Linked DNA regions of Homo sapiens. The protein of the gene in region 1 interacts with the protein of each later gene in a biochemical or structural test. Each region holds a gene or a part of one and is shown in the gene's direction. Other genes may lie near its edges.

Evidence for each region.
Region 2: the proteins of CD40 (region 1) and TANK interact in a test that uses a peptide from one of them, tested with the Homo sapiens proteins (one study listed by BioGRID).
Region 3: the proteins of CD40 (region 1) and RBPJ form a complex in vitro, tested with the Homo sapiens proteins (one study listed by BioGRID).

The regions. Positions count from the first base shown.
Region 1 is NC_000020.11:46,124,728-46,128,381, forward strand, and holds part of CD40 (tumor necrosis factor receptor superfamily member 5 isoform 1 precursor), read left to right. Parts: intron 1-1,912; coding exon 1,913-1,974; coding exon of another isoform or gene 1,975-2,014; exon of another isoform or gene 2,015-2,434; intron 2,435-3,251; exon of another isoform or gene 3,252-3,410; coding exon 3,411-3,497; coding exon of another isoform or gene 3,498-3,509; intron 3,510-3,602; coding exon 3,603-3,631; intron 3,632-3,654.
Region 2 is NC_000002.12:161,166,794-161,170,447, forward strand, and holds part of TANK (TRAF family member-associated NF-kappa-B activator), read left to right. Parts: intron 1-3,654.
Region 3 is NC_000004.12:26,414,884-26,418,537, forward strand, and holds part of RBPJ (recombining binding protein suppressor of hairless), read left to right. Parts: intron 1-591; coding exon 592-757; intron 758-3,654. UniProt on the Homo sapiens protein: Transcriptional regulator that plays a central role in Notch signaling, a signaling pathway involved in cell-cell communication that regulates a broad spectrum of cell-fate determinations.

The DNA.
Region 1 (3,654 bases):
TAACTGGAGGCACCACTGGTATAGTTTTTTTTTTTTTTTTTTTTTTTTTTTTTTTTTGAGACAGAGTCTCACTCTGTCGCCCAGGCTGGAGTGCAGTGGCGCAATCTCGGCTCACTGCAAGCTCTGCCTCCCAGGTTCACGCCATTCTCCTGCCTCAGCCTCCTGAGTAGCTGGGACTATAGGCGCCCGCCACCACACCCGGCTAATTTTTTTGTATTTTTAGTAGAGACGGCGTTTCACCGTGTTAGCCAGGATGGTCTTGATCTCCTGACCTCGTGATCCGTCTGCCTTGGCCTCCCAAAGTGCTGGGATTACAGGCGTGAGCCACCGTGCCCGGCCACCAGTGGTATAGTATTAATGGAATCAGTGCATTGGCTTACGTATCTGATTACAGCTCAGTAAGTGTGTGACCCTCACTGAGCCTCAGTCTCCTCATCTGAAAAATGGGAATGACCTTCATTTCACAAGGCTTGAGCTAAAAACATGTAAAGTGTATTGTAAATTCCTGAATGCTCTACTCATGTAAGACTAAAGTAGGCCGGGCGTGGTGGCTCACACCTGTAATTGCAGCACTTTGGGAGGCCGAGGAGGGCAGATCATGAGGTCAAGAGATCGAGACCATCCTGGCTAATATGGTAAAACCCTGTCTCTACTAAAAATACAAAAATTAGCTGGGCGTGGTGGCGCACATCTGTAGTCCCAGCTACTCAGGAGGCGGAGGCAGGAGAATTGCTTGAACCTGGGAGGTGGAGGTTGCAGTGAGCTGAGATCGCGCCACTGCATTCCAGCCAGTCTGGCGAAAGAGCAAGACTCTGTCTCAAAAAAAAAAAAAAAAAAAAAAAAAGACTAAAGTACATGGTTTCTTCAAAGCTTCTCTCTCTTTCTCCCACCTTAGATGATTTTTCCTTTGCAATGTCCTGTGTCCATTCCGCCCCACTCCTCCTGGGGCCACCTGGACCAGGTCTTCATCATCTCATATCTATATGTTTGCTGTGTCTCCTGGCTGGCCACTCTTCTGTAATTTCTCCTCCTCTGAGCTCTCTGGGCAGCTGAATCTTCTCACTAGTGAAGTCGCCTGGTTGGATGCTGATGAGACTGACCAGCTGAATCCAGTTGAAAACTTCACACTTGGCAGTGATCTGGTTCTAAAGACACAATTTTCCATAGTTTCCTAACACCATCCTGCATGCCACCTGCCTTATTTCCCCACATCACATCGTCCCACTTAGCGGGACTGCACTGCTGATCCAAATTTTACATCCTTTAGGGCCCACTCAGGTCATATGTCCTCAGGGAAGTCTTTCTGGAAGAACCTTAAACCAGAGGTTCTCAACAGGGGGCAGTTTTGCTCCCTGTGGAACGTTTGCCAATGTCTGGACACATTTCATTCGTCACAAACGGAGAGGGGGATGCTACAGGGATCTGGCGGATAGAGGCCAGGGATGCTGCTGAACATCTGCAATGCATAGGACAGCCCACCCCCACCCCCACACCCCCAGTAAATAATGATCCAGCCCAAGTGTCACTGGTGCTGACGTTGAGTAACCCTATCTTAAGCTGAACTCATCATCTCTCCATTCCAGCCTTGGTGGATTCTGTCTCCTCTGAACCATTCCCATCTCACTTTAGCCTACCTAGATCACAAAGCTTGGCACTCATTATAGACTCCCCTATTTATTACTCCTTCAAGATGTGCAAGAATCTTTTCTCTGCACTTTTAAGTTCTGTAAGAAGAGTCTGTGTCGTTCCTATAATAACCAGCATAGGACGTTGCACGTGTTGTGTGCTCAGTGAACCTGGATTTGTTGATTGTTGACTGACTCACTCTAGAGTTGGAAATCTTATGCTTGGGGAAACTTAATATCTCTTTCTTTCTCTGTGTGTGTGCATTTGTGCACGTGTCTGTGCATAGCTGTGAGACCAAAGACCTGGTTGTGCAACAGGCAGGCACAAACAAGACTGATGTTGTCTGTGGTGAGTCCTGGACAATGGGCCCTGGAGAAAGCCTAGGAAGGTGGGAACTGAAGGGGGAGATGAGGCACACAGGAACACTGGATGGGAAAAAGGGGAGGGGAGGCAGTTTGGGGGTGTGGTATCACAGCTCTGCCACTTATCTTGGGAGTCTGGGCAAATCACTTCCCCTCTCTTAGCCTCAGTTTCTTCATCTGTAAAATGGGATGATAACAGCACTTCCTTAGTAGGTTTTGATTTTAGAGTGAGAAGGTTGGCCTACAGTAAAGATCAGATAATGTAAATCAGTGAAAAAGGTCAGGGGTAAGAAAATTACATTCTCTTTACCTAACGCTAAATGACCAGTTAATGGGTGCAGCACACCAACATGGTACATGTATACATATGTAACAAACCTGCACATTATGCACATGTACCCTAAAGCTTAAAGTATAATAATAATAAAATTTAAAAAAACGAAAAATACATTCTCTTTGCTTTTTCTCAAAATGTACTTTCCTCTTTGTAGGGCTGGGACTAGAATGAGGTGAGCAAGGCACTTGCCCTCGGGCGCAATATTTAAGAAGGTGCCATAAAAGTGTAGTAATCAAGGTAAATTCATTTTGATGCAATATTTTTAAAAATAAAAATTAATGCAAAGAAATCCATGATGAGCAAGATAGCAACATTTTAAATAAAGAACAGGATCCGACCCTGTGTTTGCATGACCCTGCCTCACTCACCTCACCCTAATCCTGGCCCTGGTTCCAGTAAAAGGAATAGGCAGCCAGCCTGCAGGCCGTAGTTTGCTGACTTGGTGTCCGCCTGATGATTTTCAAAATATGGCATTAAAAGAATGTTTACCTTGATGACTGAGTGTTTTGGACATCCTTTTCAATTTTGTCCTGAAACAATTTCATCCCTTGCCTCACGCTAGTCTCCGCCCTGCCTTTTGGTCTTTCTTTTATTTTCCCACTTTGAAAAAAAAATTCGGCATGAGAAATACTTTACCTTTCCCCTCCACTCTTCTATACCAAAAGCAACATGCAGACATGAATCATGCTAGACCTCGGCATTGGGCAGAGAGCAGGGAGTGGCGGGGAGCATGGTGAGCAGGTGGTGACAGCCACTGCCACCACTCGCTTCTAGATGGTTCCCAGGTGGGGAGGCTGCCAACTGGAACCCAGTCTTCCCAGTTTGTAAGAGAAATCAGATGTCTAGGTTTGAATATGTGATCTCCCAGTTTAAAAATGTCGGCAAATATTTCCAAACGTTAAGAAAATGTTCTGGCTCCTTTAAAGACATCTGCCAGCCACATTTCCCCAAGGACCGCGGTTTGAACCTTCTGATGTAGATGAGCTCTGACATTGGAAGATTCTGGAGTCTGACAAGTCACAGCAGGTTGAGGGTAGGGAGAAACTGCAGGTGAGGGGTGCATGCTGAAGTCCTGATTTCTCCAGGTCCCCAGGATCGGCTGAGAGCCCTGGTGGTGATCCCCATCATCTTCGGGATCCTGTTTGCCATCCTCTTGGTGCTGGTCTTTATCAGTGAGTCCTCAGGTGGGGAGGTGTTGGGGGAGGGAGGGGAGACCACCTGTTTCTTATCTGGCCTCTCCAACTCCCCATCCTTTTTTTTTTTTTTTTTTTTTTTAGAAAAGGTGGCCAAGAAGCCAACCAATAAGGTAGGTCACCCCTGAGAACCCGG
Region 2 (3,654 bases), on another chromosome or scaffold:
TCAAAAAAAAAACAAAAAACAAAACAAAAACACAGAATTTGTCTTTCATTCACTGATTCACCTCTTTATGTACTACAGTGGCAACTTTTCTGAAATAGAATATGAACTCCTCTTATTCATAGCCCAAGGGGTTGGGAAAGGCTGGTGGCTTTCTTTTCTAGGGCAAAGTGGAAGGAGTAGCAGTTATTCAAGGTGGTTTCCTTTCCCCATCCTGAAACTGCTTTAGATTTGAGTTGGTCTCTCACCACAAGTGTGAACTCTGGCAGAACATTTACCCAGAAACAGAATAGGCTCAGCAGTTGGGGAAACCCAGCAGAGGGGCCTTGCCTGCCTCCCAAATTACTCACACTTGTCTCAACCACCTACAAAAAAGTAGACCTTACTAAAGAATGACTAATCATCCTGGGGTCAAGATGGCGAAAATCCTACCTTTAAGCCTTTGATTCTCTTCAAACGTGGAATTCCAATGTATATATACATAACTGATCAAAGCTCAGATGTTCTGGTTGAACAGGCAGTTAGAGGTGGAACATGATTTGGCTCATACACTGTCAGCCTCAGTGCAGCTCCAGAGGCACCACTACTTACCCTTGATTACTACTTTCTTTATCCAGGATTGGTTGGCTGTCATTTGGCAGGATAATGGCTGCCAAAGACAACAGACTTAAGATATTGTATCTATTGTCAACCTAAAGAAATGGAGGCAAAATTAATATGGGGAATTTATTTGGGTAAAGGTTGACGACAGCTGCCTTGGACACACTTCCAGGTTGCCTTGGGGGGTTGCTCCATTCGGCCTTTGTTGCAACCAGGTTTTTGTTTGTTTGTTTGTTTGTTTTTGTTTTTTGAGATGGAGTCTCTCTCTGTCACCCAGGCTGGAGTGCAGTGGCGCGATCTTGTCTCACTGCAAGCTCCGCTTCCTGGGTTCACTCCATTCTTCTGCCTCAGCCTCCCAAGTAGCTGGGACTACAAATGCCCGCCACCACGACCGGCTAATTTTTTTGTATTTTTTAGTAGAGACAGGGTTTCACCGTGTTAGCCAGGATGGTCTCGATCTCCTGACCTTGTGATACGCTCGCCTCGGCCTCCCAGAGTGCTGGGATTACAAGTGTGAGCCACCGTGCCTGGCCGCAACCAGGTTTTTAAAGGCAAAAGAGAGCAAAGAATGGGCTGATACTAAGTTATTTGATAGGAATTCTCACTGGTTTACAGAAATAACATTGATTAGTGATTATACATTGTTGAACTATAGGGCATGAGTTTTGGTATCTAACGTATGGCATTTTATGGCTACTTGGCATCACATAGTAGGTAGCTTCAAGAGGGTCATTTAGTTCACGGGAGAGTGAGGTGTGACTGCTGTCACACACTTACATTTCAGTGCCTCTCTGGGCCTGATAATTAAAATGGGTTTGCACTCCTCACATTAAAAGTTTTTATTTCTCACTATGAAATAAGGAGGGAAGTTCATTTTAAAAGGAGTGGCAGAATAAGGAGAATTGGAGAACCAGTACAGAAGATTCAAAACCCAGATAGTAGAAGTCCCAGAAAGGAATACAAAAGGAAAGAAATTGCCCCAAAAAATTTTCAAGAAAATTTCCAAGAACTGAAGGAGGAATTTCCAGATTGAAAGGGCCCACCAAACACCTATTGCTATGATATAGTCCATGGCCAAGTATGGTCCTGAAATTTCAGAATCCTAGGGACAAAAAGAAAAAAAATCCTAATTGTTTTCAAAGAGAAAAAAATCGGTTTAAGGCCAGGCACAGTGGCTTATGCCTATAATCCAAGCACTTTGGGAGGCCGAGGCAGGCAGATCACCTGAGGCTGGGAGTTCAAGACCATCCTGGCTAACATGGTGAAACCCCGTCTCTACTAAAAATACAAAAATTAGCTGGGTGTGGTGGCGTGCGCCTGTAATCCCAGCTACTGGGGAGGCTGAGGCACAAGAATCGCTTGAATCCCGGAGGTGGAGGTTGCAATGAGCTGAGATCACACCATTGCACTCCAGCCTCGAGCAACAGAGTGAGAATTGTACAAGATCAGGAATCAAAATGGATCTGATCCTCAAAAAAAATAAACAGAAGCTAGAAGATAGCATAGCAAAGCTTTCAGAATTCTGAGGAAAAATTACTTCCAACCTAGAACTCTTAATCTAGCCAAAGGATCCGTTAAGTCAGAGGGTAAAGATATTTTTAGTTATGCAAAGCCTCAAAAAATTTACTTCCCAAACACTTTCTTAGGAAGCTGCTACAAGATTTGCGTCACCACGTGGGGATATAAAACAAGATTCAGGAGACTGAAAATGAGGGATTCAATTAAAGAAAGAGATGGACAAAGGGTATCCCCAAATTCAAGGTAAAGAAGGTCCCAAGATGAAGGCTTTCCATCAGGCATAGAGAGCAACTAGTCTAGATTGGAGCAAGCCAGAAAGCTTACAGAGTGATTCTTCTAAAGAGATAGAATACCTGACGTGTCTGAATATATTGAGGAGTTGTATTAGTGATAATAGGAAACAAAGCAAACAAGAATTTTCAGGGAAAAAAGTTTTCAGAAAAGGAAAAGTATCCATGGTATTGTTCAACAGTGAATAGCATTACATAGTAATAAGAAAGTAAAAGCTGAATGCTAATCTAATGAAAAATTAGATATAACTGTATTGGGGAAATGGGGGAGAATAGGAGGTAGGGGATATTTAAAGAGAGCTGAATCCTAATTTTCCATAATGAAGAGACAAAAACTGAAAAATCAGTAGTGGCAGTATTACATGTTATTTAGGGATACAGAGATAAATACAAAAAAGAATTAGTCAAAATTTGTTGCGAAGGTGAAGCAGGAAATAGGAAGGGGAAAGCAGAGGACTACTGTTTTTCTTATTTTGTAGAACTACACAACTCATTAAGATATAGGTACGTATAGCTCTGATTAAAATAAAAAATTAGAGGGGAGAGAGCTAGAGATTGTGCTTTAGCAACAGAGACCTAGGTTTATCTGGTTCTTCCATTTTCTAATTCTGTGCCTTATGCAACTTATTTACCCTTTTGAAGCTCAGTTTTGAAGTTCAGTTTCCTCCTCTGTAAAGGGAAGACAATATATGCTTCTGCAGAGGGAAGATTAAAAATGAGGTAGTTTATGTAAAGCACCTGCAAATAGATCTTTGTTCCGACCCTAACCCCAGTGCTTCCCATGATCAAATAGGGAACCACCTTCTTCATTGTTGGGATGATTGCCATCCAAACAGAAGACTGAGATTGTCCTTCTTATCCATGACTCTTTGTGCCTCTTTGAATTAAAGGCATGTCTTTGAGATCTATCTTGTCTCTCAACTATCTGTAGATAGTTTGAGAATTGAAATAGAATTAAGATGATTAGAGTATTGATAGGAGGAACATCAAGTTAAAAGTGTCATTGCTACTTAGTGGGAGATGGGCTATGGTCAGTCAAATTTCTCAACAAGAACTTCAACAAATGCCATTAATAGAGAAAACATTTGTTTTCTCTATTAATTAAGTTGATGAGTTGTGGAAGTTTTATGGAAGCAAGATGAACAAAGTGCTGTTGCTCTGGGCCATCTGCCAAAGTATCAAAATACCTTTATTTATTTATTTGAGAAAGTCTTCTACCTTAGCAACTGCTATTTTTGTTCCGAAATTC
Region 3 (3,654 bases), on another chromosome or scaffold:
TATAAAATTCAAAGATATATAAAACACAGCACTGCTCATAATCAGGAGATCCATGTATTTTTGGCTCTTTTGCTTAGTTTTATTAATATTTTGGATGTTTCTACTATGGACAATGCTCTAACACAATTTTCCAGGTTAATTACCACATTAAGTTAAATGCAGTATCCATAATAGTAATGTCACTCATTAATGATTGTGTCATTTTGAATAGGCCTTAATTAGTAATTACAGATTTTTGTGGTGGTTTATCGTGTTTTGTAATATGTTAGAGTACACTGGATTTGCTGAACTCTGGTAATTTAGAACTCTGAGCCATACAAAGAGAAGTTCTGTACTCTAAAAAGTATTTAATCTAACTGTATGCATAACTCCAATATTTTGCCTGAACAGATTTAGTCATTGTGGAAGTCCCGATTTCTGTCCTGTGGGCATGATTATTTGCATTACAAAAGGCTTCACCAAAATTTTTCATTGGGGAATAGGTGCATTTCAATATGATTTTGTATTCATAATGTTCAAGGAAAGGAAATGCTTTATTGAATCTAATTGATTTTTGCTTCTTGTTTTTTTTTTTCCCCTATTATTCTTCAGGTTTTTTTGCCCACCTCCTTGTGTATATCTTATGGGCAGTGGATGGAAGAAAAAAAAAGAACAAATGGAACGCGATGGTTGTTCTGAACAAGAGTCTCAACCGTGTGCATTTATTGGGATAGGAAATAGTGACCAAGAAATGCAGCAGCTAAACTTGGAAGGAAAGGTAAATCAAGACTGCTAGTTCACCAGAAAGGGGCACCATGGTACCAGAATGTAGTTTTCATATTCATTTTTGTGGTGGAGATTTTTTTCTTTAATAACTATTGGTAACAATTTCTTGAATATATAAACTAGGACCAAAAAACATGCCTCTCATAGCTTTGGTCTAGTCACTCATGAAGCTTACGCTGCTGACATTGGAAGGTGGCATGCAGTAAGCTTCCCCAGCTTGCAAGCAGTTTTAGCAGACTATAAATCAGATTTCTATTGGAAGCCAGTAATAAATTTAGGAGGCTGATTGCTCATCTTCTGTTTGACAGAGGTTTATCAACAAAAATACATTGTTCAGTAATGTTTTACTCTGCTATTTTAATCTTAGTTTTATACTAGACACGATGATATATACATTGTGGAAAGCATTTATCTGGGTTATAACGATCATAAACGTTTACTTGACATCAGAGTGAAGCAGAGTGATACTGTAGACAAGAACAGCCACAGTTGGCTTTACTCAAATTTTAGTGCGTGGCAGGGGTTCTTCAATTAATTTTCTAGAGAAAACAATCTATCAGCTAGTTTTACTGATTATATTGTATGAATTTAGAAAGCAGTCAATCTAGATCTTTTTTTTTCTTCCCCCGGGACAGGGTTTTTACTCTGTCACCCATGCAGAAATGCAATAGTGCAATCTTGGCTGACTGCAACCTCCACCTCACAAGTAGCGGGACCATAGGTGTGTGTCACTATGTCCAGCTAACTTTTTTGTATTTTTTTGTAGAGATGGGGTTTCGCCATGTTACCTAGGCTGGTCTTGAACTCCTGAGCTCAAGCAATCCATCCACCTCAGCCTCCCAAAGTGCTGGGATTACGGGTGTGTGCCACCGTGTCCAGCCAATCTATACTTTTAGTATTGAAAGATAGTTTTTTATTCACTTAGAATTTAGCTATGGTTTTATTTTTCCTTGCTACTGTACTTTGGAAAATGGTTAGTTCTGATCTCAATGACTAAACATCTTCTAAAATAGCGCATAAACAGCTGTTTCATTATTTGATACATCCTTGTTGAATATTTTAGTGTTTGCTATGTTGTAGTTGGCACTAGGTATATGGGTTGGGAGTAGTGTTGGTGGAGGTGAGCTAGGGGATTTGTACTCTCAAATTGAATTTTAGTGATTTTACAGATAGTACTACAGGTCTTAATGTCAACCTCCTTCAAATTTAGCTGTTTGTATGTCATTTATATCTTTATAGTTTTTGTAAGTAAGATTTGTTGACTATGTATTTTAAATTAGATTTGGGATAATACTTATTACAATAAAGATTGTTTCATCTTAAACCACTAAAACTATTTCTAAATTATGATCCCTGAGCTAAAGTAACGAATATATTTAAGTGGTGGGTTGATCTAATAGATCTTAAGTCTTGTCTCATCTGTTTTCTTGTTACCTAGGAAGTCTCAGAGTTATATGTCTCCAGGCTTCACATGTAGACATTCAGTACTATGAATGAGTGGATCAGATAGGTAGTGAGAAGCCAGGGATTCTAGCTACCTGTGTGTATAACTGTTTAATCCTACTTCATTGCTCATTTTAACCAGTTCCAGCTTCCAGTAATTTTAAATGAGGTGATACCAAATAAACCAACCAGTAGTATCACTGCTTGCCTTTCGCAGCATTGTGGCTTAGTAGTGCCACATCCTAATTTTGTACCTTTAGGGGCTGCCTCAACATGGAGATCTTTCTGCTGTTTTTCATTATATCTTTCTTCAACTTCCACTAGTATACCCTTTCCCCAAGGCCTAGAAACTGGCAGAAGAGGAATAGAATACCTGAGAGCTTGAGCATTTAACTAGTATTTAAAATACCTAGTAATAGGTTAGTACAATGTCTGTAAGCCAAAATTATATGTTAATATTTAATTTTAAGGAAAAATTCTATTAGGGAAGTTTATGTAAAGCAAGACTGGTGAGAGTTAGTAGAAGGCATCCCAGGCAGAAAAAAAAACAATATAATCATGTGCTTAGAGCATAAAGGTATAAGAACATGGTTTTGACCAAGGTAGGCAAAGATGTCCTGAGCAGCGGATTCTGAGCTTCAGTGAGAGGCACTTTGCTCTTGTCTGCCTCACTTAAACTCCATTCGTGTAAGGAAATAGTCTGTTCATTGAGTGGTACAATTAGTTATTGAGAAATATGGGATATTCATTTTGCAATTTTTGGTGTTTATACTTATTTTAAATATTCACTGCAACAAAATTCTAGTATATCTAGCCCTTTAAATTTATGGTCATGACATTTGGCTGTATGTAGGTAATATGTTGGATCTTAGATTTTGTGTAATGTTTTTAATTTGTTAAAAAAATTTACATTTTTTATAGTCACAGCTAGGTAAGCTACGCAACAAGGATGACTTAGTTAACACTCTTGTGTTTTTCTTATTTTTAAACATCATATACTCTTGGTAACATTTTGTTTCTATAATTTAAACATTTCTGCAGTATCACTTTGCAGCATTAGATTTGGTATTTCTTCTTTCTTTCAGGGAAATGTCTTTTATTGCCTAAAGATCTTGTTTTCAAAGAGTATTTCTAGAGAGATGATTATATGCCATTTTCTCTTCTAGAATTCCGTTAGCTAATTTAACCTTTTGCAATAGCAAGGCAAATGTAATTTTAGTTTTATTTGCTTATTTTCTATGAGTCAGTGACTTTTTCCTTCTTTTCTTAATGGAATTTGAGTAGTTTGTGGTCAGTGGCCTTATAGTTTTTTAAAACTAATAGTTCCCATAAAATTATCTTGATTATGATTTTTGTGGATTCAAACTACTCATTGTAATTAGGGATATATTTCCTTTCTTTCCAAGGAGATATATGTGTGTTTGTTTTTTCCGAACAAAATGCAGT